6 separate regions of the Homo sapiens genome follow, and regions 2, 3, 4, 5 and 6 are each reported to be linked to region 1. The links are microRNA targets in miRTarBase. Many come from high-throughput screens and were not tested one by one. Region 1 holds a microRNA gene; each other region holds the end of a gene's coding sequence.
What was found. Region 1 holds the annotated microRNA hsa-miR-4423-5p (AGUUGCCUUUUUGUUCCCAUGC, at 1,398-1,419, opposite strand). A microRNA usually pairs through its seed, bases 2 to 8, with sites in the 3' UTR of a target mRNA and lowers its output. Matches are read on the target gene's strand: a 7mer-m8 pairs with bases 2 to 8, a 7mer-A1 pairs with bases 2 to 7 and ends in A, and an 8mer does both.

Region 1 (4,089 bases):
GAACTCGTGAAAATAAAATTAGAAAAATCTCTGGAGAAAGTACTGAACAGCAAGCACAGATGCCCAGGGAGAGGAAGATGCCTGGCATGTTTGGTGAACAGGAGGCCAGCATGACTGGGATGGGTGTGATGGAGGGGAGAGGAAGGAGGGATGGGACCAGGTGACAGTGGAAGGCCTGCCTGTACAAGGGCTTGCAGGGCACAGACAGGCATTGGGAACATACTCTGAGTGATCATACTATGAGGTTGAGGAAGGATTCTGGGCAGAAGGATGACAGCATCTGACAGCATCCATTTAAAACTACCATCTGGCTGTGGCTGAAAGTGACTGAAAATGACAACATAGAAACAGGGAGAACAGGAGGCTGCTGCAAAATCCAAGCTGATGATGATGCAGCTTGGACCATGGTGGTAGCAGTGAGGGAGAAGAGAAGCGATCAGGTTTCACATGCATACTGAACGTGTAGTCAACAGGACTTGCTGACAGATTGGATGTGGATTGTGAAAGAAAGGAGATGAAGGATGACCTTAAGGCTTTTGCCCCAAGCAGCATCATGGCTGGGAGGACTGCTGGAGGAATGGTTTTTGAAGGGAAACATCAAGCACTCAATTTTGGACATGTTTAAGTTTGAGATGCCTATTAAACATCCAAGTGGAGATACAAAAGGTCAAATAGATACACATCTCTTGATTTTAGAGAGAAGGCCAGGTCAGGGACAGAGGTAGTATCTAAAGCCTTGAGAGTGGATGCATGCACCTAGAAAGTGAGTGCAGAAAAAAGAAAGAATAAAAGAAGTTCAAGTGTAAGGATGAGCCCTGGGATATTTCAATCATGATGACAATAATATGTGCCAGGCACAGGCCCCTTATCTGCAGGGGCTCATTTGCCCCTTACATAAATGCTGCAAGTTAAGTTCTCTCAACCTGACTTGATGGAAGGGGAATCTGTTTCACAGAGCTGGGTCATCTGTTCAAGGGCACACAGGTGGTTAAGAGCTAAAATCTATCCGACAAAGTTTTCTTTCCTCTAGCAATCTAACTTATAAACCTTGGTATTATCCTTTGTCTTCCCTTCCCCATCCAACCAGCCTTTGATTTCTATCTTCACATTAAGCTTTAGTACAGGGCATCCTAATCCTTTGCCCTGAACAATTCCTCCTGCCTCCTAATAGGATTTCTTGCCATGAGACTCTCCCCTGCTCTAGTTCATTCCTTGTTTCCTAAAAATAAAGCTGATTGGGTCAACTTCCTGTTTAGACCTTCCATTCATTCCCCATAAATTCTAATCCAGCTCCTTAGCTTGGTAAACAGGAGCCTTCACAATCTGGCTCCAAGCTCTTTTGTGTCTCAGTTTCACATACTGTTGTTGCTTTTTGGTGCCTATGCTAGGCTTAAACAGCATGGGAACAAAAAGGCAACTGCAGTACATGATGTCAGGCACCTGATGGTGTGAGCTGTGTCTTGTTCCACATCTCAGGGGAAAGCTTTCTGCTTGTCACCATGAAGTACCATGTTTGGTGTAGTATTGTTTTACACGCCCTTCATCACATTACAGGAATTCTTTCTGTAGATGCCAAGAATGTATCATTATTATCATGAATTGATGTCAACTTTTATGAAATGTTTTTCTGCATCGACTTGGCATCATAATTTCTCTCTTTTGATTAATCACTGATTTATTTTCTACTCTTAAATTAACCTTATCTTCCTTGGATAAACCCAACTTTGTCTTCATGTGTTAACCTCTTTAAAATATATATATATATATATTTCTGGATTTGATTTGCTAATATTTTGTTTAGCACATGGCCCTACAGTTTGTACAGTGGCCAAGGGGAAGCACTTTTTTTGGAAAGGTGGCCAAAAGCAAGCTGATAAGTAGGAGCAGTTTGATTTCCCCTTCTGCCTGGAATGAGGGCCTCTGTGTGGACAGCAAGGATTGGGATGGAAGGGACATCCAAAGTTCTCTATTATTATAGGAAAATACAAATTTTGTTATTGAAAACATTCATTAAAAAAGAACACTTTCATATTCAGTACAAAATTTGGTACATACATGGTACAAAAACTGAAATAGATCTCATTGCTAAAATTCAAAAGTTTTAATAGCAGGGAAATAAAAGTCTATAAATGAGCCTATATATATATATGTTCAGCATGCCAGTTCACCTGACATAAAAATAAATAGAGGGAAGAAGTCCCCAAAACACCCCTTCAGGAAGCTTTTTTACATCACCTCCATGTATGACCCCTTCTCTGTGACTTTGATTAGGCCAAGGTTGATAAGAACAGTCTTTTCCAGTTCCAGATAACTCTCATAGTCCATTTTTAATTCAGCCTGCATTTGTTCTTTTGACTTCTGATATGTTTTCTGGGGGGGGAAGAAAAACAAGACATCCCTATAAAACACTGATATCTAAAAATACCAAAGGATGAGAAGGGGCTGTTTGTGAATAGTTGACCTGGCTGCTGTTTTCTGGAAAGGGCTGGATGGAGGGCAGGAAGGCAGGAGGGCAGGTGGGCAGGAGGCAGTCAGATGTGCTGGGAAAGGAGGGAGTGGGGGGAAACATGGTCCCCAACCACTGTCTCTCAAAAAAAAGTCCCTTTTTCCGGCCTTCTTCCCTATAACTCTTGTTTCCCTTATGTAGACTGGAGGGTGACTAATAGCCTAGAGGTTGCAGAATTCTTTTGAAATCCCCCTCTTCTGAGTCCATATGGATGGCATAGCTTGTGGATCACACGGCAATGACTACTGTCCCAGGCTGAGTCTCCAGCTGAAATTCTGGTTAGGAAAATTCCCATTTCATATGCAACTAGAGCAGTGATTATTATTGTCCATTGAGGAGTGAGCTGTTTCCAGATTTTATGTTTGCAAAGAGACAGGTGCATGATTTTCCTGAAATCTGTGTTGAACTGTACAGCCTCAACCTGGCACCTGGTGAGCACTCACACAGGCCAGCCTTGCTGGACGAACATGTGAACACTTTCTATGTGCCAGTTATTGGCTAAGTGCTGTAAATATTTTAACTCATTTAAGCTCCATTGCAATCTTCTGAGGTTGTTACTGTTGCCATTTCCCCCTTTATCAGCCGTTGCTTAGAAGGAGACATTTCTGACTAACATTAGTTGTTTTTCCTTAGTGACTTTTTTTATGTTCTCAATGTAACAGAGGAACCCTTTCAAATTCATTCACATACCCACAATCTATTCATAGTTGCAGAGAAAATTTGAGAAGTGGTGGCTTTACTTAAAAGAGGGCACCATATCAAATGGAAATAAAGTTACAAGAAGTTGGGAACGTTTTGGAAATTGAAAAGTATAATACAATTTAAGATATTATTATTATAATATTCAGGTGTTTAAAAAGTATTTCACATGCAAATTATTTTTGGATTATCCACAATTCTACTCGCTCCCACTGATGTAGATAATTAGGAGCTGTTGCTATGGTATTTAAACACTCATAATAATCGTGGATAATTGCTGGGGAAGGGGAAGGGTGGCAGATTCTCTCCCACAATAGAATCTCAACAAATCAACATTTGTTAAGTGCAAAAGAACAAAACTAAGATCAATTTGTTTGTAGCAGTGGAATGCAATGAAAGTTTAATTAATTGGCATTCTTTTACACTTTGTCACCAAACATGTTTTGAAATGAGATCCTCTGCTTTTATTGCACTAATTAGTATTTATCAATGAGTGATAATGTTAATTTATTTGCTAATGCAGCACATTACAATATTTCCACATGCTAATGCTTTATTTTTTTTTTTTTTTTTTTGAGATGGAGTTTCGCTCTTGTTGCCCAGGATGGAGTGCAATGGCACAATCTCGGCTCACCATAACCTCCGCCTCCCAGGTTCAAGTGATTCTCCTGCCTCAGCCTCCCGAGTAGCTGGGATTACAGGTATGTGCCACCATGCCCGGCTTATTTTGTATTTTTAGTAGAGACAGGGTTTCTCCATGTGGGTCAAGCTGGTCTCGAACTCCTGACCTCGTGATCTGCCTGCCTCAGCCTCTCAAAGTGCTGGGATTACAGGTGTGAGCCACGGCGCCCAGTGCCACATGCTAATGCTTTTGAGACTGAAGG
Region 2 (4,089 bases), not on the chromosome of region 1:
CCAGGAGGGGGTCTCTTCCTACGTACGTAGTGTCAGAAGAGCCTGTGCATGGCCTGTCACACACAAGCTAGGATGTTCCCTCCGCCACTGTTGCAGAGTCCCATGAGCAATGTGAAAATGTGGCAGGCCCAAGGTTTTCTTCTCTGGTCCAGAGAGGGCGAGGCAAGAGCAGGAAGCAGGTTCTACAGCTCTGAGAATGCTGAGCTAGAGCAGCAGCCTCCAGGCAAATGGGTTACCAAAGCAATTGCCTTCTGCCAGACTGGGTGCTGGGGCCTCAGAGAGACTCCAGTATTCTTGCCTTCCTGAAACCAGGGTCTAGCAGGACAAAACATATTCCAACTAGAGGTTGTCAATCTGGTGAAGGGTTGAGTAAACAGTAGAGGATGCAAGGCAGCCTGAGGTAAGTGCCAGACAGTCTCCGAAGATTCAGGCTGGCTCAGGCTTGCCTTGCCCCGTCAGTCATTGCTGGCTCTATGGCTATTACAGCCTGGGGTTGAAGGCTGGTTCTAGGGGTTCCTCCCACCAGCCCATAAATCTTAGTTACCAAGGGGCAGTCAGAGGCAGTCCCAGGGAGCCCAGCAATCCGTCTACACAGCATTACAGCAAGCTGCAGTGTGAGCCAGAACTAACAGGAGACAACCCAAGCCTCCCTCCAGCTCTGGGAACCAGGCAAACCATGCTACAGAAACTCAAATCGAAGAGGCTGCAGCCATAAAATTCTGTTTAAGACTGTAACATGGAAAAAATGTTTATACGTTAAGTACAAAAGGGACATAAAATTGTATATACAGAATAACGACTATGTAAACACACCAAAAATCTATGCACAGAAATGTCTAGGGGGAACATTTAACACCAAAAGATTAACAGTGGTAGCATTTGGGTGGCAAACTTGATTCTTTCTAAAATTCCCATATTTTCCTTAATAAGCAGTAATTATAATTACAACGGGAAATAATTTCTTTAAGTACCCAGTGCAGTGTCACTGTCAAATAAACATCAGTGGCTTTGGCCCCAATTCTTAAGGTGGCAAACGCCGCTGCCCCACTCCCCACCCATCCCCAATAGGGCTTGAGCACCTGTAGCCCTGCTGAGCACGTCTGTGCAGCCCCAGCCCTCAGCATCTCTTCCACTCGCTTCCAGCTATATCTTTTCCCTTTCCTTCTTAATTCAGGAGGCAGCTTTGCAACCACAGGGCCCAACGATAGAGACTGTGAGGTGGCATTTTTTTTTTTTTTTTTTTGAGACGGAGTTTTGCTGTTGTTGCCCAGGCCGGAGTGCAATGGCACGATCTCAACTCACCGCAACCTCCGCCTCCTGGGTTCAAGCAATTCTCCTGCCTCAGCCTCCCAAGTAGCTGAGATTATAGGCGCATGCCACCACGCCCGGCTAATTTTGTATTTTTAGTAGAGATGGGGTTTCTCCATGTTGGTCAGGCTGGTCTCAAACTCCCGACCTCCGGTGATCCGCCCGCCTCGGCCTCCCAAAGTGCTGGGATTACAGGTGTGAGCCACCGCGCCCAGCCTTGAGGTGGCATGTTTTCAAAGAACATGGTGCTCAGTTTTGGACACACAGGAACTCAAATACAATCATTTTCCTGCTGCTAAGTAATGCTTGGTGGCTGCTCTGGTTGCAGATATGTGAAGTTAGGTAGCCTTTCCTGTTAACCCATGGTTCCAAGCACTCTCTCTTAACAATCATTCCTACTGTGAATTTTCTACCCGGAAAAGCCAGGGGTGGGCAATAACAATTAAGATCATTTGGTTTCTAAAAGTTCTTCCTCTCTGGGAAAGCAGAACTATACAGTGGGTGGCATCCTGCAGATTCTAGTCTACATTTGGGAAAGGTGTACGCCTCTTGCACTTTCAGAGGAACAAGTCAAAAAGTAATTGCTTAAAAAAAAAAAGTGCTAGCAATTCACAGCCTATTCCTGCCCGCTGAACAGAAATTGTGATGCCTTGATTTACCCCCTAGCAGCTACATATTCTTGAGCAAGTCATAACCCTATTGTGCCTCAGTTTCTGGATCTGCAAGGAGTGTTGCCTGCATAAATGTTTGTTTAGGAACTTAGTAAAATGACATACTCCTCTCTCTGCTCTAAGAAGGCCATGAGCCAGCTGCAGCTCATCTCACTCAGCCTGGGCCTGACCAGAGTCCTTTCCTCTTCCAAGAGAAAGCAAGGAAAAGCAGCAAGCAAGCAGACATACCAGGTCAACAGGAGTGATCTATCATTGGCAACGAGGCCTCAAACAAACTGCAAATGCTCTGGCTTCAGCACCTTATCCCCAAATGCCACAAACCAGACATGGAAGCCATGCAAGAGTGACTATCACACACACACACAGGCACAGACAGAGTACCACCAAGCAAAAAGGGGGCTAATACTGCAGAGATGGCCCCAAAGTGCAGCTTGAGGAACACAGCAAGTCATCCCAAGACCCTCACTTAGCTGCCAAAGAAACAGCAAACACTATCAGCTTTGCTTCAGTCTTCTGAAATGAAAATATTAATAAGGAAGACTCACTAATACTTGTGGCAAACACTATTAGCAGGGATGCAGGGTGTCTCCTGGGCTGCAGGACTCCATCTGCTTCAGCTGAACTCTTGGAAACTACAGATGAGAGATATATGCATACGCACACACATATATGCGTATCTGTATGCACACAGATGTATTTAAATGAAGGTGCATACACTGTGCTAAAATACAAACAACAGAAATCAAAGGTCATATATAAAAACGCTAAATATGACATATAACACAGGCCTAGAACCAGCTCTTGGTTGGGAGCTGGGGAAAGGGGTGGTATCATCTGAAGACTATGTACACAATTTGTGGTGGGCAGGGAAGGCATCAGTGTAAACAACTCAGACTCACTTCACAATACTGGCCCACAGGTAAGTGTGATGTATCTCATGTACAAAAATAGACTCCCACCTTGCTTTTGTACAAACCAAGCTTGGTAGGCACCCAGGAGGACCGTGGGTTTGTCTTGATGACAGGGCACTGCACCAGGCTGCTGCTAAACCTTCCAGCCCTAGGAACTCACCTGCTACCCTCCCGCTACCCTCCCCTTTCCCTCCCTTTCAGGCCCTTGGGTCTTTTTCCCACCCAACACCTACAGCCCGAGGCCTGCCCAACCACCTAGCCTCACACGACTAACTGCAGAAACTAACTGCATGGCTTCCTGCAAGCAAGGTCCTTCTGTATCTGTCCCTTTCTCTGACCCCAAGATATATGAAAATGTTTCTGTAAATGTTTGGCACCTAAGAAACATGATGGTTGTGGATAATGCCACAAGTACACAGGGAGACCCAGTAACAAGACATGCAGGGTGAGGGCAAGCGGCTGAGCTGCCCAAGCATTTCAAAACCAGGACTTTGGCTTCCCATGCAGTTGGAGGGTAGAAGGGATGTGCGGAACTGATGACTTCACCGGCTCCTCAGCAGCATGTACATTCAAATTGAAGATGCTTGAGAGCCCCACTATACCAAATCGTGAGTCTGGTCACTCCTCCAGCAGAGCTTGGTGCAGTGACAGTTAGAAAAGCTGAGTTCCAATTGAGTCTGTTGCACCAAGAGTCCTTTTGAAGACGCTCATCAAAGTAATTATTTTCTTTTGAGCAGATGTACAGCACATCCATGGGAAGGCCATGTAAAAGGATGTTCTCCAGCCCAGTCAAATGATCCAATCCCACTATTATCTCAGTTCCCTCTGAGTTTCTTCCTGCTGGCCGCCCTCACTATACAGAAATAGCCAAGCAGCAACAGGGTCAGTCATCAATGGTGGGCAACCAAAAGGCCTAGAAGGAGAACATAAATCAACTTTAAAAAGCCAAGCATCTCCTCACTGCCAACGGTTCTTCACATCCCACCCCACAGCAAAAATGTGCCCAACCCCAGTGGCTCTGGTAGCCCTCTCTCCTAACCAACCAACCCCGATGCTCTAAGGAGACAGAAACACTCTTTCCTCTATGTGAAAGTAAAATGGTTCTGTTTTTCTCCAATAATCACTGTCCACCTTCCACCAAAGCAGACCCCCCGCCCCCTTTTTTTTAAAGGAAGGGAAAAAAAGGAGTGCTGCCTGGG
Region 3 (4,089 bases), not on the chromosome of region 1:
GTTTGGGAGGCCGAGGCGGTGGATCACTTGAGTCCAGGAGATTGAGACCAGCCTGGGCAACATGGTGAAACCCTGTCTCTACTACGAAATACAAAATTAGCCAGGTGTGGTGGTGCGCCTGTAGTCCCAGCTACTCAGGAGGCTGAGGTGGGAGAATCACTTGAGCCCAGGAAGTCAAGGCTGCAGTGAGCCATGATTGCACCACTGCACTCCAGCCTGGGTGACAGAGTGAGACTCTGTCTCAGAAAATAAAAAAAGCGAGAGTGGGGACTGGTTTTAAGAAGTCAGTTGATAAAGTGGAGGCTGTGAGTGGGACAGGGACAGAGAGGGTGCTGTGGAGCGCACTCCTGGAAGTGGGTCCCTCTTCTGTCTTCACTCCATCACCTCTCCTTGATGAGACCCCCCGGGCAGTCCTTGATGGAGGGAGAAGGAGGGATGGGGGCCACAGAAGGGGCTGCCCTGGCATAGGTCCTTTCCCTGGCTGCTCCTGGGTTATTTGGGCTCCAGAGTCAGAGCATGGGGAGAGGTGGGGAGAGAAGGGTCCTGGGGGTTCTCCCGGGGAAGTGACTCATTTTCACCGTGTCCACCACAGGTTCCGGCTCAGCAGCCCTCACTTCCTGCTCGTGGTCCTTCTGAAGCTGCCCCTGCTCCTGAGCATGCTGGGTGCTGTCTTCTGGGTGAACAGGCCTCAGTGGGCTCCTCCTGGAAGATAGAGCCAGGCTGACCCGAAGCCCTGCAGAGCCCCATCCCCAGGAGTGCCCCGTGCAGGGAGTCAACCTTTCAGACTGGATGCGAGAGACCTGTGGACTCTGGAGGGATTTATTGTTCCTGTGCCTCAAAGGAGGGTCCTGGCTCTTAGAGGACACTCCTCTGGAGTCCTCAATGTGCAGCTTGGGGGTCCTCCTTTCTCCTCCCCAGTCCCCTGCCTCCCTGCCCTCATGCCCACTTCCCAAGGGCAAGAATTCCCTGGAAGTTGGCCGGGCACCATAGCGAGTGCCTATAATCCCAGCTCAGGAGGCTGAGGCAGGAGGATCGGCTGAACGTAAGAGTTCCAGGCCAGCCTGGGCAACATAGAGAGCCCTGTCTCAGAGAGAGAGAGAGAGAGAGAGAGAGAGAGACAGAGAGAGAGAGAGAGAGAGAGCGAGAGAGAGAGAGAGAGAGAGAAAAGGACGGAGGAAGGGAGGGAAAAAATTTTCTGGAGGAGCCTGGCCCTTCATTCTTCTTGGCACAAATGCTTCTCAGGCCAGTTTCCCCCAGGGCAATAACTACCTCCTTCCTGCAGACAGGAGTCTCCCTGAGGACACACCCCTCACAGCCCCAGCCTTTAGGCTCACAGAGCTCCATCTCTTCTCTGGGACAACCCCAAGGGAGCTTGGTCCCGGCAGAGCTTGCTCATGCAGTTGCCCAGTGTCCCACATGCTCAGGGCTCCTCTCGTCTTCTGACGCCCCTTGGGTCTCCCTGGCTTTAAGGCCCCTTCTCTCCCTGTAACCAGGCAGTGTGTGGCTGGGCTCAGAACATCTCTGCCTGGGTGGGCCGTGGATGAGCTGCTCCAGGTTAAAGTTCTGGGGCGAGTTGAAACAGTAAAGGGAGAAGGAGCTGGTGGGTGCCCCTGATATCACTCCTGGAATTCCCCCACCTGGAGGTGTCCAATGCACAAGGTCAACAGAGTCAGTTCTGTCCACTTTAGAAGTCTGGCTGAGACCACCTGTTAGCAATTAACCTTTTCCACAGGCAGAGCAGATATCGTTTTTCAAAGACAGGATGGAGGGCACAGAGGTGAAGGATACTTGTCCACACTTGAAGTGCACAGTGCTATCACCACTACTGGTGACCCCTGGCTCGGGAATGAGCTCAGTTGGTTTTCTGAATGTTTGTCAATTACTCTGTTTCCCTAAAGTTTGTGGGGAGGACTCCCACAGTCTGCCACAAGCAAGCATCACCATCTCCACTTGCTACCTACATCTGGACCAGTGCTCCCCCTCTGCCCCCAGGCCTGAGCTCATCCTGAGCTAGTGATGCCAGTGTCCAGAGCACATGGAGTGACCCTCTGAGTGCCGAGTGCTTAGGCAGAGCTGCCGTGCTCTGAACTTGAGCTCTGGTGGGGCTCCCAGCTCCATCATGCATGGTGACTAGGGGAAAGATGGGGCTGGCCCAGGACTCATGCTGAAAGAGAAATTCAATCTAACAAGGCCCATATTAATTATATTAACCCGGGAAATATGATGATGAGCAAGAAAGGAGCTTATGATTCATTTTATGAGAAGGATAAGCTCCCAAGTCATTACAGCATAGGAAGAACTCTAGAGCCACAAGAGATGCTTCCTGATGTCAGGGGGTTGGTGAGGAGAATATCATGCCAAGCTGGCCAGGTCAGGGAAAGAAGGTGACATTCATGTTGATGTTGAAGGAGGTATAGGATTTCAGCGGAGCAGGGATGGAGCAACAGGGAGAGAGAGAGGACAGAGAAACAGCATAAGTGAAAGCAGAGAGGCGGGAAATAATCTTCATAACAATAGTCACTTATAGAAGACCTATCAGCAAATGGACTGTACTGTTCACATACAGATGCTCATGGTAGGATGTGTCTAAGATTCCAATGGAGTGAAATTTTCCTGTGGCAGGCCAGATGGAACTAATCTAGAAGAACTCAGGTGGTGGCAGGTTCAGGAGGCTTAGGACTCAACTCTTACTTAAACTTTGATTAGCTATGGTGGGATGGATTTGAGCAGAACAAGATGGGATTGCAGATGTGCTTTAGGAGGACTTGCCTAGCAGATGTAGCAAAGTCTGAAAGGAAGAATCTGGGAGTCCGGAGTCTTAAGCCTGGAAAACCAGAGGAATCGGGCATCATTGACAGAAGTAGGAAAGTCAAGAGCAGGCTTGGATGATGCAGAGCTTAGTTTTCTGTGTGTTTGGAATCATCAGGCAGAGAGGTCTAGCAGATAGCTAGAGATGTGGGTTAGCAGAGTGTTGAGGGCTGGAGAGGAATGTGTGTAGAGAGATTAACTGGAACCCAGCAAGAAGTGAAAACATGGAGGGAAGAGTTCAGAACCAAGGACAGAGCCCTCGGGGCACCTGCATTTAAAGACAAAGGGTAGGAGGAAGACATTGATCAAGGTGCTGGAGCAGAATCAAACAGGTGGAAGATGAGAAGTCAAGAGCCATGAATGTTTCAAGGAGGAGAGCAGAGCTAGAGAGGTGGAGGAGGACCGGGATTGAGAGGAGGCTATTGAACTTATCATTCACAAGGTCACTAATGAAGTTCAGAAGAGCAGATCAACAGAGCAATGACAGCAGAAGCCAGAAGAGAAGAGTTAAGAAAGAGTAGACAGATGGCAGACAGCAGGTGCAGGAGAAACAAACAGTGGCTTCTCCATGCTTTGAATTTTCCCTTCTCCCTTACTCCCTTTTTTTCCCCTATTCTTCCTTTCTTTTTTCCCTTTATTTACTCATTCATTCAATAAACTTTTATTGTGTGTCTATGGTGCATTGTTCTGGGCATTACAGATAAGGACTTAAACTATGCAGAGTCCCTACTCCTTTAGAAGGGAAGTCTAAGATGTAGACTAACAATAGCGATGCGGTGTGTTAGAATTTGTGTCAGGGTTCTGCACAGTGCTCTGTGGGGGCACAGAAGGGAGGCACTCCCATGAGGGCCAAGCGGAGAAGGAAAATTGAGGGCTTGAGTTATAAAAATAGGGCAGAAGACTGGGGGATGATTGTCCCAGACAATGGTAGGGAAGAGTCATAGAGCATGGTGGATACCAGGACCTTCAGGAGCTACGTTACCATTACCATGTGTGCAGAGTGCATGTGAGGGAGGAGTGAGATATGGGGCTGGAGCCTCAGTCTGAAAGGGCTTCATGGCAGACCAAGAAGTTTGAATTGTGTTCTGGAGGCCATAGGGAGCCCCTGGAGGTTTTAATTTTTGAAACTTTTATTTTGAAATGATTATAGGCTTAACATTGCAAATATAACATAGAGTCCTGTGAATCCTTCATCTAGTGTCTTTCAATGGTGATGTATTATATAACTGTAGGACAAGACCCAAACCAGGAAACCAGCATTGTTACAATACTGTTAGCTAG
Region 4 (4,089 bases), not on the chromosome of region 1:
GGAAATCCAGAGGCCAAGCCGACAACCCCCAGCTGGCCCTTGGGGTGGGGTAGAATGACCTCGGGTGGAGCTGATGCTGTCCCCTTGCCTGCCTGTCCACAGCGCCTGGCGCATGAGTGCCTGTCACAGAGTTGTGACAGTGCCAAGCACTCTCCAACGTTGGTGCCCACAGCCACCAAGCCCGACGCAGTGCAGCCTGACAGCCTCCCCTACCCACAGTACCTGGCGGTCATCAAAGCCCAGATTTCCTGTGCCAAGGACATTCACACCGCCCTGCTGGACTGTGCCAACAAGGTCACGGGCAAGACACCCGCACCACCTGCTGGCCCTGGGGGCACTCTGTGAAGTGGGGGACAGGGAGTGGGGCAGGCAGTGGTTGGTGGGTGGTGTGCAAAGGGAATGAAGAGCGTCCTGGGCCTAAACACAGCAGCCTCCTCTCTTCCTGCCTGAGCACCGCAGCGGGAGCCAGCAGGGGGCAGCAGAGGCCAACAGGGAGCTCGCAGGCCGGGCCCCTGCGTCCCTGCCCCTTCTTCCTGCTCCCCCTCCTAGCCTAGGGTAGACTTTGAACTGTGTGTGTTGATGACTTCTCTGTTCCACAGGCCCTCCCCCATTCTTGCCTGGGTGTGGAGCCCTGGCTGTCCCCTCTCCCTCAGTCCTTCCTGACTGTCTCCAGCTGGGAGGTGGTCTCTGTGTGCCACTCCTCTGTGTCTCTATTACAGTTGTGTCTCTCTCATCCTGTCTCTTTTTCCCTTGTTTCTCTGTTCCTGTTAATGTGTTTCTCCCCATGGTCCTATTTCTCTCACTCTGACCTCTCTCTCTTAGTCCCCTTTAGCTGTCTTCTATCCCCAGCTCCTAACTGGGACTCTGTGTCTATGCAGGGGGCCAGCACCCCTGGGTTATCTGGGGCTAAGGGAAGGGACTTCATTTCCAGGGGCCACAGCCAAGCCCAGAGTCCCCCAGCGGCTCGCATGTCAGCCCAGACCCCAGGGTCCTTGGCCTAGGAGAGGAGCAGTGGAGGGGCCCAGGCTCTGAGCTCCACAGGTCTGAGCAGGGAGCAACTCAGGCCCCCACCCAAGCCTGCGTCAGCGGAACTTGAGTGAGGGGCGTTGTGCAATTTGTGGCAAGGCTGGCCCAGCTGGATGCCTGGGTCCCAGTATTTTTAGCCCCAAAGGAGAAGTGAAAAGGCCCCAGCCGGGGTGAATCATCAGTCCTGGGGAAGAACCCAGGCGCCTGAGCCCCAGCTCCGGGAAGCAGGCACTGGGGAGGGGGCTTCAAGGAGGGAGTGCCCCCTCAGACTCCCTGCTTCCCTGGAAGCTTCAGGAAGCTCAGCCTCAGCCTTCAGGCCTGAGCAAGTGCAGGGCGGAGCTACCAGCCCAGGCTCAGATGTTGGGGTGTGAAAGCCTCAAGTGACTCAGCCTGGTTGGAGAACTGCCCCACCCAGTATCTTCTGTGCCATGGTTCCCACATTCGCACTCCATGGCCTCCTGTCCTGGACCCCACGTCTGCAAGGAAACCCTAGGACCATGGATACCTCTGTGATTCACGCTGAGCCCAAGTCCCCACACTGGAAAACTGGGAAATGGCCAGCTGTGTGTCCCAGGAAATTCCTCCCCTTATTCTTCCTTGAAGTGCCCGAGCATGTAGGGCAAGAAGGAAGGCTGAAGCGCTGTCCCTAGGAGGAATTTCTCCTTCAGGGGAGCCTCAGTTTTGCCCATTTATCTAATTGAATCAGTTTTTTACCCAATCCCCCGATTTTGTAGGATAATCTCCCTTATCTAAAGTCAACTGATTATGGACTTTAATCACATCTACAAAACACTTCCATGGCGACAGCTAGATGAGTGTTTGAATAACTGGGACTGTAGCCCGTCCAAGTTGACACATAAAACTGACCATCGGGCCGGGGGCGGTGGCTCACGCCTGTAATCCCAACACTTTGGGAGCCCGAGGCGGGCGGATCACAAGGTCAGGAGTTCGAGACCAGCCTGGCCAACACGGTGAAACCCCGACTCTACTAAAAATACAAAAAATTAGCCGGGTGTGGTGGCACACACCTGTAGTCCCAGCTACTCGGGAGGCTGAGGCAGGAGAATCGTTTGAACCTGGGAGGCAGAGGTTGCAGTGAGCCAAGATCACACTATTGCACTCCAGCCTGGGCGACAGGGCAAGACTCTGTCTCAAAAAAAATAAAAAACTGACCATCTAGTCCTTGTCATCTGGGCACCCTCACACATCTCCTTAACCACACTTAATCTCCAAATAAGTACGATAACATAGTCATAGTCCCACCCAACATGATGCAGTTATCTTGCATACAACTGAAGACAACTAACCCTTTCCCCAACAGAGCCCACCAGCAGTGGTGGAGATGTCGGTCCATGAGCGCACACACAAGACTGAGGGACTGTCGGCCCTCCCAGGTGGTGTCAACACAACATCACACACAGGTGGGGGGGCCTGATAGCCCAGCACCCATGATACAGGGCCTACCAATGCTTAAAACCACACCCAGGGAGCCCACAGAGGCACTCAGTGGGTGGTGGGGTGATGGATACACATCTATCAGGCACAGGGCGGAGGTGGGCACCACTGAGTTGCACTCAGCAAACACATTGGGTATCTTGTGCCCAAGGCCTGTATTTGTGGAGCTGATGTTCTAGTGAGAGACAGTAAATGTGACAAAAGTAAAATATATCAGATGGTGAGAAAACAGAAAAATGAGATCAGAAGTGGAGATGTTGGGGCCAGGCACAGTGGCCCAGGCCTGTAATCCCATCACTTTGGGAGGTGCAGGCAGGCAGATGGCTTGAGCCCAGGAATTCAAGACCAGTCCGAGCAACATAGCAAAAGCCCTTATCTGCAAAAAATTCAAAAATTAGCCAGGTGTGGTGGTGCGTGCCCAGGTTCCCAGGTACTCGGAGGCTGAGAGGTGGGAGGATGCCTTGAGCTTGAGAGGTTGAAGCTGCAGTGAGCTGTGATCGCACCACTGCACTCCAGCTTGGTTCATGGAGACCCTGTTTTTTTAAAAAAAGAAGTGGAGGTGTTTACACCAGCAAAATACTCATTTTTTAAGTGTAATTAAGTTGAAGATCAAAAAATGGAAATGTATAATTAAATCATACTTAGCAAATCTAACACATGAAATGTAACATCTGCATATGGAGAATCGTGTTACTTTATTGAAAAACATTAAAAGTTTGAGAACTTAAGTTGGATTGTGGTTTCGTGAGCATTCATTATGGTTTATATATGTTCCATGTATTTATTATTAAATAGATGACAAGGGTTTTCTTATTCTTGTTTATATATGTTTGAGACCAGTCTCACTCTGTCGCCCAGGCTGGAGTGCAGTGACGCCATCTCGGCTCACTGCAACCTCCGCCTCCTGGGTTCACGTGATTCTGCTGCCTCAGCCTCCCAACTAGCTGGGATTACAGGCGTGCATCACCACACCTGGCTAATTTTTGTATTTTTAGTAGAGACGGGGTTTCACCATGTTGGCCAGGCTGGTCTTGAGCTTCTGACCTCAAGTGATCTGCCCGCCTCGGTCTCCCAAAGTGCTGGGATTACAGGCACAGGCACGAGCCACTGCAGTGGGCCTTTTAATTTTTGTTTTAATCCTTGACAGAGGTCAAGGAAGGCCTCACTGAGAAGGCGATATTAGAGCAGCCCCGAAGGAGAGGGAATGAGCTTGGGGACATCCACACATCCAGGCAAGAGTGCTCCAGACAGAGGGAACTGCAAGTGCCAGGGACCTGGGACAGGAATGTGCTGGGATTTATGGAACACATAAAAAGGAGGCTTGGGCACAATGAGGGAGCAGGGATAGGAGAGGAAATCCAGACAGGTCACAGAGGGCCTTGGTGAGGACTTGGGTTTGCTAGGTAACTAAACCCAGAGGGAGACTACACAGTCTGGTGCACACTGCATGCTCCAGGGACGGGGTGTACGTGAGGTGCACAGCCACCACAAAACAGACCGTGGGGACTCCAGCACACAGCATGTCTGCCCCACTGCAGAGCTAACCCACCATCCTACAATCATGGTGCCCCCAGGGACCCCATCCCATTGACAGTCCCACAAACATAC
Region 5 (4,089 bases), not on the chromosome of region 1:
AAGAATGTACATGGGTGTGTTTCCATCTGTGATATGCTAAAATTTAATCTACTCTAGATAGATTTTTATATTAAGGAAGAGTAAGCACATTCCTTTATAAACAGAAACTTGTAGAATTTTATGCTGCTTCTTCATAGCCCAGAAGTCAAGCTTGTTTTTGAATGGTCATTTCATGACTTTCTTTTTAAAGGAACCAAAGGTAAATGAAAATACTAGTATAAAAGTACCACTTTTATACTATAAATATATTTATACTGTATATATTTATATATATTTATACTATATATTTTTTTACTATATATATTTATACTATATATATTTATAAGTATGTGTTCAGCACTGTGACAATTATTGTTACAAGGCATGCTTCTTTTAGATCATAATTGGGATACAACTAGAGCCTTGATTTTTTTTTTTATTTTCCTTTCGTTTTTCATGCCTGTTGACTGAGTGTATCTTATTTCCATAGATTGAGTGGGGAGCTTGTGCACTTGTTCTCACAGGAAACACAGTCATCTTTGCAACTATACTAGGCTTTTTCTTGGTCTTTGGAAGCAATGACGACTTCAGCTGGCAGCAGTGGTGAAAAGAAATTACTGAACTATTGTCAAATGGACTTCCTGTCATTTGTTGGCCATTCACGCACACAGGAGATGGGGCAGTTAATGCTGAATGGTATAGCAAGCCTCTTGGGGGTATTTTAGGTGCTCCCTTCTCACTTTTATTGTAAGCATACTATTTTCACAGAGACTTGCTGAAGGATTAAAAGGATTTTCTCTTTTGGAAAAGCTTGACTGATTTCACACTTATCTATAGTATGCTTTTTGTGGTGTCCTGCTGAATTTAAATATTTATGTGTTTTTCCTGTTAGGTTGATTTTTTTTGGAATCAATATGCAATGTTAAACACTTTTTTAATGTAATCATTTGCATTGGTTAGGAATTCAGAATTCCGCCGGCTCTATTACTGGTCAAGTACATCTTTTCTCTTAAAATTATTTAGCCTCCATTATTACAAAAAATTATAAAAATAAGTTTTCAGTCAGTCAGGATGACATCACTCCCAATGTTATGCAGACATACAGACGGTTGGCATACGTTATAGACTGTATACTCAGTGCAAATATAGCTGCATTTATACCTCAGAGGGGCCAAGTGTTAATGCCCATGCCCTCCGTTAAGGGTTGTTGGTTTTACTGGTAGACAGATGTTTTGTGGATTGAAAATTATTTTATGGAATTGCTACAGAGGAGTGCTTTTCTTCTCAATTGTTAGAAGAATTTATGTTAAACTTTAAGGTAAGGGTGTAAAAACATTTTTGAGATAAGGTTTTTATTTATGTTTATTATTGTTAGAGTGAGTTGCAATGTGGGAAGAAATGACATTGAAATTCCAGTTTTTGAATCCTGTTTCTATTTATAAGTGAAATTTGTGATCTCCTATCAACCTTTCATGTTTTACCCTGTTAAAATGGACATACATGGAACCACTACTGATGAGGGACAGTTGTATGTTTGCATCATATATGCCAGAAAACCTTCCTCTGCTTCCTCCTTTTGACTTATTTGGTATGTTGTATATATTACATAAAATAACTTTTCAAATATAGTTTAATAACACTTAGAAGTGTTTACTTACCTGGAAAATAATTGCTATGCCGTACATTCAGAGTGCCCCCTCCCCTGCAAGGCCTTGCCATGATTAACAAGTAACTTGTTAGTCTTACAGATAATTCATGCATTAACAGTTTAAGATTTAGACCATGGTAATAGTAGTTCTTATTCTCTAAGGTTATATCATATGTAATTTAAAAGTATTTTTAAGACAAGTTTCCTGTATACCTCTGAACTGTTTTGATTTTGAGTTCATCATGATAGATCTGCTGTTTCCTTATAAAAGGCATTTGTTGTGTGAGTTAATGCAAAGTAGCCAAGTCCAGCTATATAGCAGCTTCAGAAACATACCTGACCAAAAAATTCCCAGTAACCAGGCATGATCAATTTATAGTGGTCGTTTACATCTAATAATTATCAGGACTTTTTTCAGGAGTGGGTTATAAAAACATTCAAGTTGGTCTGACAGTATTTTGTTAAGGATATTTGTTTGTATGTTTATTCAGTATACTTACATAAAAATTATTTCGCCATCAGCCAAAACTCAGTAATCATGACAGCTGTCTGTTGTTTTATGAAGTTTATTTCTCAAGAAAATGGGAATAAATTTGGGATTTGTTCAGCTTTTTTACTAAAGATGCCTAAAGCCACAGGTTTTATTGCCTAACTTAAGCCATGACTTTTAGATATGAGATGACGGGAAGCAGGACGAAATATCGGCGTGTGGCTGGAGCCTTCCCACTGGAGGCTGAAAGTGGCTTGTGGTATTATAATGTTCAGATTTCAAGAGGAAGGTGCAGGTACACATGAGTTAGAGAGCTGGTGAGACAGTTGGGAACTCTTTGTGCTTGTGATCTACTGGACTTTTTTTTGCAGGAAGTGCATTCTCTGGTCCTTCCCTATTTTCTGTTCTGGATGTCAGTGCAGTGCACTGCTACTGTTTTATCCACTTGGCCACAGACTTTTTCTAACAGCTGCGTATTATTTCTATATACTAACTGCATTGGCAGCATTGTGTCTTTGACCTTGTATACTAGCTTGACATAGTGCTGTCTCTGATTTCTAGGCTAGTTACTTGAGATATGAATTTTCCATAGAATATGCACTGATACAATATTACCATTCTTCTATGGAAAGAAAACTTTTGATGATGAAACAATAAAGATTTTAAATATCTATTTTAGTTTGTGGGTGTTTTTGAAATGAAAATATATGGCACACTTTCATTCTGAAGTGCATTAACATTCTAATAAGGTGATGTAAAGCAAGATGACATTGGTGTAATGTTAGAGTTGCAGAAGTTTCCATTCCAAAATAAAATGGAAACCATAGTTACAGATATTACAATGCAGCCCTGTAATTTTGAGCTGTAGTAAAAGGATTGGTAATCTGGGAAGTAGAATTTTTACAAAATCTTTTACAAAAATAGTCATAAAAGGTTTTGTTGACATTTAAGACTACTACTGATCTAAAGGCAAGGTCCTACTTCTTAAATTTTCAGAACATTTTTATGACTTCTTATTATGTATTTATTACCACTCATTATTATAGCATGTTACTTTTTGCAAACATTTTAAACAAAAAATATTTCTGTTTGGTACACTGTGAAGAGAGAAAAGTACTGTTCTGTATTTTCAAATATTAGTCGTGTCCCAAATTGTCCTAATTATAATCTTATCATATACTTTAAAAAGTTTAGGCTGTGGACACTAAATGTCTGCTCTAATATGATTTTGGGGACATTGTCAATACAGATTTTTTTTTTTTTTTTGAGACTTGCTTTGTGCCCAGGCTGGAGTGCAGTGGTACGATCTTGGCTCACTGCAACTGCTAGGTTCAAGCGATTCTCATACCTCAGCCTCCTACGTAGCTGGGATTACAGGCATAGGTCACCACACCTGGCTAATTTTTGTATTTCTTGTAGAAACATGGTTTTGCCATGCTGGCCACACTGGTCTCAAACTCCTGGCCTCAAGTTATCGCCCTGCCGCTCAGCCTTCTGAGTAGCTGGGATTATAGGCCTGCACCACCACGCCTGGCTAATTTTCGTATTTTTTGTAGAGATGGGGTTTTGCCATGTTGGCCACGCTGGTCTCAAACTCCTGGCCTCAAGCCATCACCACCACAACCCCCCTCAAACCACCCCCCCGCCCCGAAAAAAAGTGCTGGGATTACAGGCGTGAGCCACCACACTTTGGCCAAAATAATCCAGATTTCTAAAGTCTAGGATATTTATATTGAATGTGACTAGATTTTTAAGTTTCAGATAACTTTTAATCAATGCACCAAAGTTAACAAGCAACACAACGTTATTGTTAAGTGGTATGTGTGTTTTAGATCCCAGGATGCTTTATGATGTATACGATTGGTGGGAAATTGAAATTCGTATTTCTTCTCTATAAGCTTGTATTGCCCTTTCTTTCAGTGAAGATTAGGAGCTCTGATTTTATTACAGGTCTGTTCATTTTATGGCATTC
Region 6 (4,089 bases), not on the chromosome of region 1:
GGGAAAAACGTTGCTGTTCATTTTCTACCTTTCTGTCCTGTTCAAATCGTTTTTAGCCATGCTCACATATCACATTTTTAACATTTCACGTCTCCTCTCGGCTACACCACCACAGAGCATATCACATAATTAAATGTAAGGCCATTAACATCTACACACACACACACACACACACACACACGCACACATGGATCCAGCTGCAACTCTAAGAATGCAAATTATAAAAGATTCAATTACATAGGAATCAATTCAAGAGTATATATTTGCCTTCCCATTTGTTTTCTTTGCTAAAACACAAAGCAGTCTCATACGCATCATAAGGTAAATTGTGTACAGAAAAAGAAGGAAATCAAATCCCAAAAGGTGATGTGGAAAATGCAATAATTTTTCCTGCTTTATTGAGGAATGATTGACAAAAATGGTATATATCTACAGTATGCAACATGATGTTTTGACATATGTATACACTGTGAAATGAGTACCACAATCAAGTTAATATATCCACCACCTCACAATTATCTTTGTTGTTGTTGTTAGTGAAAACATTTAACATCTACTCTCTTCACAAATTTCAAGTATATAATACGGTTCTATTAACTATAGTCACTATGCTGTACATTAGCTCTCCAGAGCTTATTCATTCTTCCTAACAGACACCAAACATCTCCCTATTTCCCCCACGTCCCAGGCCCTGGCAACCACCATCCTACTCTGCTTCTGTGAGTTTGGCTTTTTGAAATTCCACACATCTGTGAGATCTTACAGTATTTGTCTTTCTGTATGTGGCTTATTTCAGTTAGCATAATGGTCCTCCTGGTTCATCCACATTTTTTCAAATGACAAGATTTCCTTCTTTTTTAAAGCTGAATAATATTCCATTGTGTGTGTGTATACATATATACACATACATATGTATACTACATTTTTTTATCTGTTCAAATGTTCAAATGTGATATTTGAGCATGGCTAAAAACAATTTGAACAGTACAGAAAAGTAGAAAATGAAACAGATACACATACATGCATACACTACATTTTCCTTATCTGTTCATGTGTTGATGGACACTTAGGTTGATTCCATACCTTGTCACTAAGAAAAGCAGATCATAAACTTTGATCTGTTGTGATTTTGGATCTTAGCACCCAGGCATCCCATCAATACCAAATTTGAAAGATTAGTTGCTTATTGCATGTGTGTAAAAATACTCATAAACTTGAGGGAAGTTCCACAGGCTAATCCTAGTTTGAAGTCTTACAAGTATGAACAATGAGATACTTAGGATTTACTGGAAAGAGCACAAGACTCGGAGTCAAAAAATTTGGGTCTGCTCCATCTGCATTATTTACAAGTTCATGATCCTGGGCAAACCATCACTCCAGCCTGAGTTTTGTCACCTGTGAATTGGGGATAAAATTGGTTACTGCATAGAGTTGCTATTAAAATCAAATGAGATAATGGACTATATATGAGATTGTCTGGTAAAATGTAAAGCCCAATACAAATGTTAAATACTATTGTCACTATTACAACAATTGGTCACAAAGGACATCTGTAAAAAAAATAGAAATGGTATAATGAAAATTCATCCTACTAACAAAAATATAACCAAGCAGAAGCACCTTTCTATTTAAAAAGAATGAATATGATCCTTCCCAGGACATAAAATATGGTACTTGACCTCACACAACTCACAGTGACAGTGGAACCAATCTCCCCCTGTGTGATGACTAATATCCACATGTGCCTAGCATGTACCTCAATTCTCAGATTCAGGTAAGAAAAAGATATGTTTGAGAGAATAGATTAATGAAAGTAGATTAGTGTGATCCATAGGAAGTGAAAAAAAAATATTTAAGAATGCCAAGTGTTGTCCTTTGGATTTCAGATCCCCCTGGAACTGAAACAAAGAAGGCTAGAAAGAAGGAAGAGAATAAGTTGTGTAGAAGGGTCTGTAGAAAGAGGCATGGGGTTCCAAGGAGGGAAGGACATTAGGAAAGTAGCATGTTGTAAAGGAAAGAGCCCTGCACCAGGAGTCAAGAAACAGCTCTAGTCCCAGCACTGCCACAGGCTCTCTATGAAACCCAGGGCAGGCCACTGCCCCTCTCTGGGCATCAGTTTCTCTACCTACAATACAAAGGAGGCATTGTAAAACCAGTTAGCACAGCTATTCAGTCATTTACAAAATATTTATTAAGCGTTTATTATGCAATAGGCAGTGTTCTAGTCACAGAGACGTGGGAGAAAATAAAAACAGACACAGTTCCTACTGCCATGGATCTGGCATTCTAAATGATCTCCCTCCAACTCAAAGACCTGGCACACTAGAACTCTGACTGTAGGCTGTGGTGAGGCCACAGTAGACAGGCAAAATGGCTAAATGACTGAAGAGCAGACAGCGTGACCTCTTCAAAGGCAGTCTATTTTTTTTAAGCAGAATCAAGTGCCCCTCATTCTCATATTGCCCCACTTCAGTTCCTGGGCCTTGGAGCTTAATACAGATCATGGCATCCAACTGACTTTTATTCTGCTTTTTTTTTTTTTTTTGAGACGGCATCTCGCTCTGTTGCCCAGGCTGGAGTGCAGTGGCATGGTCTCGGCTCACTGCCATCTCCACCTCCTGGGTTCATGCCATTCTCCCGCCTCAGCCTCCCGAGTAGCTGGGACTACAGGTGCCCGCCAACACACCAGGCTAATTTTTTGTATTTTTAGTAGAGATGGGGTTTAATCATGTTAGCCAGGATGGTCTTGATCTCTTTTTTTTTTTTTTTTTGAGACGGAGTCCCGCTCTGTCGCCCAGGCCGGACTGCGGACTGCAGTGGCGCAATCTCGGCTCACTGCAAGCTCCGCTTCCCGGGTTCACGCCATTCTCCTGCCTCAGCCTCCCGAGTAGCTGGGACTACAGGCGCCCGCCACCGCGCCCGGCTAATTTGGTCTTGATCTCTTGACCTCGTGATCCGCCCGCCTCAGCCTCCCAAAGCGCTGGGATTACAGGCGTGAGCCTGATTTTTATTCTGAAAGCCAAGGCTAGGGCTCAAAGAAACTTCCAGAAATATAAAGATGTTTTGTTTTGTTTTTCAGTTAGATAATTAGATACATTACAGCAGAGAAATGGGGAAATTATTTGATACTTTTTAAAAAGCATATCTAAAATGACTAACATTAATGTATAGGTAAAATTTCATAAAAATTAATGATCACTATAATTGTTCCTAATCTCTGTTTTCTATACTAGGAAAAACACAATTTATATATGAATTTTTGCTATATGTAGACAGAATTGTTCCTAATCTCTGCTTTTTATAATAGGAAAAACACGATTTATATATGAATTATTTGCTATATGTAGAGAGAATATAATACCTCTTTTACCAAACATGAAGCCCTAGCCTTGATTTCTGTGGTACATTAAAAAAATATACTTTGCATTGCCAAAAGAGACATAGTATTGGGTTTTGATCCGTATTTTCTGTTGCTCATTCATTACATTGGTGTAAAAGAAGGAAAATCTTAAAAGACATGGAAAGCAGCTCCCTTATAGAGAGCTATCAAAAGAGCGTCCCAAGAGTGTCCTGACCACACTTTTCTTCCCAGATCATGGGCCCCAGCATCTCCGAGCACACACTGTCTTCCACAGGATCTTCTGACAAGTCTGCTTCACCCTAGGAATCCCCATGATCAATATGAGAGAATGAAGAGAAGGATAGGCTGCCATGAGTGTCTCCCAGATGAAGACACTGGTGAGATCAGGAGGATAAGTCTTGGAGGTGATGGAGAAGGGGCTGGCCATGATATAAACCAGGTGAAGTAAGAGGAAGCAGCCCAAGGACTTCAGCGCAGTGATGTGAGCCTTGGCCCGGACATCCCTCCTACCAGCTGAATGGACCTTCATCTTCTTGTGGTGTGTATACAAAGAGACAATCAGCATCCCAGAGGAAACAAGAAACACCACTAAAGGCAAATAACTTCCTGAATTGAGCTGAAATGCATACAGGTACTGCCAGCTTTCAAAGGGATACCGAATGCTGCTGTTTCCTTGGGGAGGATGATAGAATGTTAAGCCAATTTGGACTGTAAGTAACAAATTGATT

Region 2: the mRNA of WDR82 is a reported target of hsa-miR-4423-5p. Seed matches in the 3' UTR shown: 8mer at 2,038-2,045 and 7mer-A1 at 1,262-1,268.
Region 3: the mRNA of CD300E is a reported target of hsa-miR-4423-5p. Seed matches in the 3' UTR shown: 7mer-A1 at 1,065-1,071.
Region 4: the mRNA of MED29 is a reported target of hsa-miR-4423-5p. The part of its 3' UTR that is shown has no 7-base or 8-base seed match.
Region 5: miRTarBase lists LEPROTL1 as a target of hsa-miR-4423-5p. The part of its 3' UTR that is shown has no 7-base or 8-base seed match.
Region 6: the mRNA of TAS2R5 is a reported target of hsa-miR-4423-5p. The part of its 3' UTR that is shown has no 7-base or 8-base seed match.

Annotation. Positions count from the first base shown.
Region 1 is chr1:85,131,136-85,135,224 of GRCh38, reverse strand. It overlaps MIR4423 (microRNA 4423), which reads right to left and starts at 1,431; the gene lies at 1,352-1,431. It overlaps DNAI3 (dynein axonemal intermediate chain 3), which reads right to left. Exons shown (of 23, transcript NM_145172.5): 23 at 2,087-2,370. The coding sequence ends at 2,227.
Region 2 is chr3:52,253,717-52,257,805 of GRCh38, forward strand. It overlaps WDR82 (WD repeat domain 82), which reads right to left. Exons shown (of 9, transcript NM_025222.4): 9 at 718-3,803. The coding sequence ends at 3,774. Among named protein-coding and RNA genes, the nearest start is that of PPM1M, 10 kb to the left of the region's middle. RefSeq lists an enhancer at 1-34.
Region 3 is chr17:74,609,277-74,613,365 of GRCh38, reverse strand. It overlaps CD300E (CD300e molecule), which reads left to right. Exons shown (of 4, transcript NM_181449.3): 4 at 593-3,481. The coding sequence ends at 713. The region is part of intron 3 of LOC101928343 (a long non-coding RNA gene); the gene reads right to left. Among named protein-coding and RNA genes, the nearest start is that of CD300E, 12 kb to the left of the region's middle.
Region 4 is chr19:39,397,355-39,401,443 of GRCh38, forward strand. It overlaps MED29 (mediator complex subunit 29), which reads left to right. Exons shown (of 4, transcript NM_017592.4): 4 at 103-3,287. The coding sequence ends at 345. Among named protein-coding and RNA genes, the nearest start is that of ZFP36, 7.4 kb to the right of the region's middle. RefSeq lists an enhancer at 967-1,016.
Region 5 is chr8:30,105,277-30,109,365 of GRCh38, forward strand. LEPROTL1 (leptin receptor overlapping transcript like 1) reads left to right here. Exons shown (of 4, transcript NM_015344.3): 4 at 470-3,248. The coding sequence ends at 586. Among named protein-coding and RNA genes, the nearest start is that of LEPROTL1, 12 kb to the left of the region's middle.
Region 6 is chr7:141,790,766-141,794,854 of GRCh38, reverse strand. It overlaps TAS2R5 (taste 2 receptor member 5), which reads right to left. Exons shown (of 1, transcript NM_018980.3): 1 at 3,488-4,089. The coding sequence ends at 3,594. Among named protein-coding and RNA genes, the nearest start is that of TAS2R5, 2.6 kb to the right of the region's middle.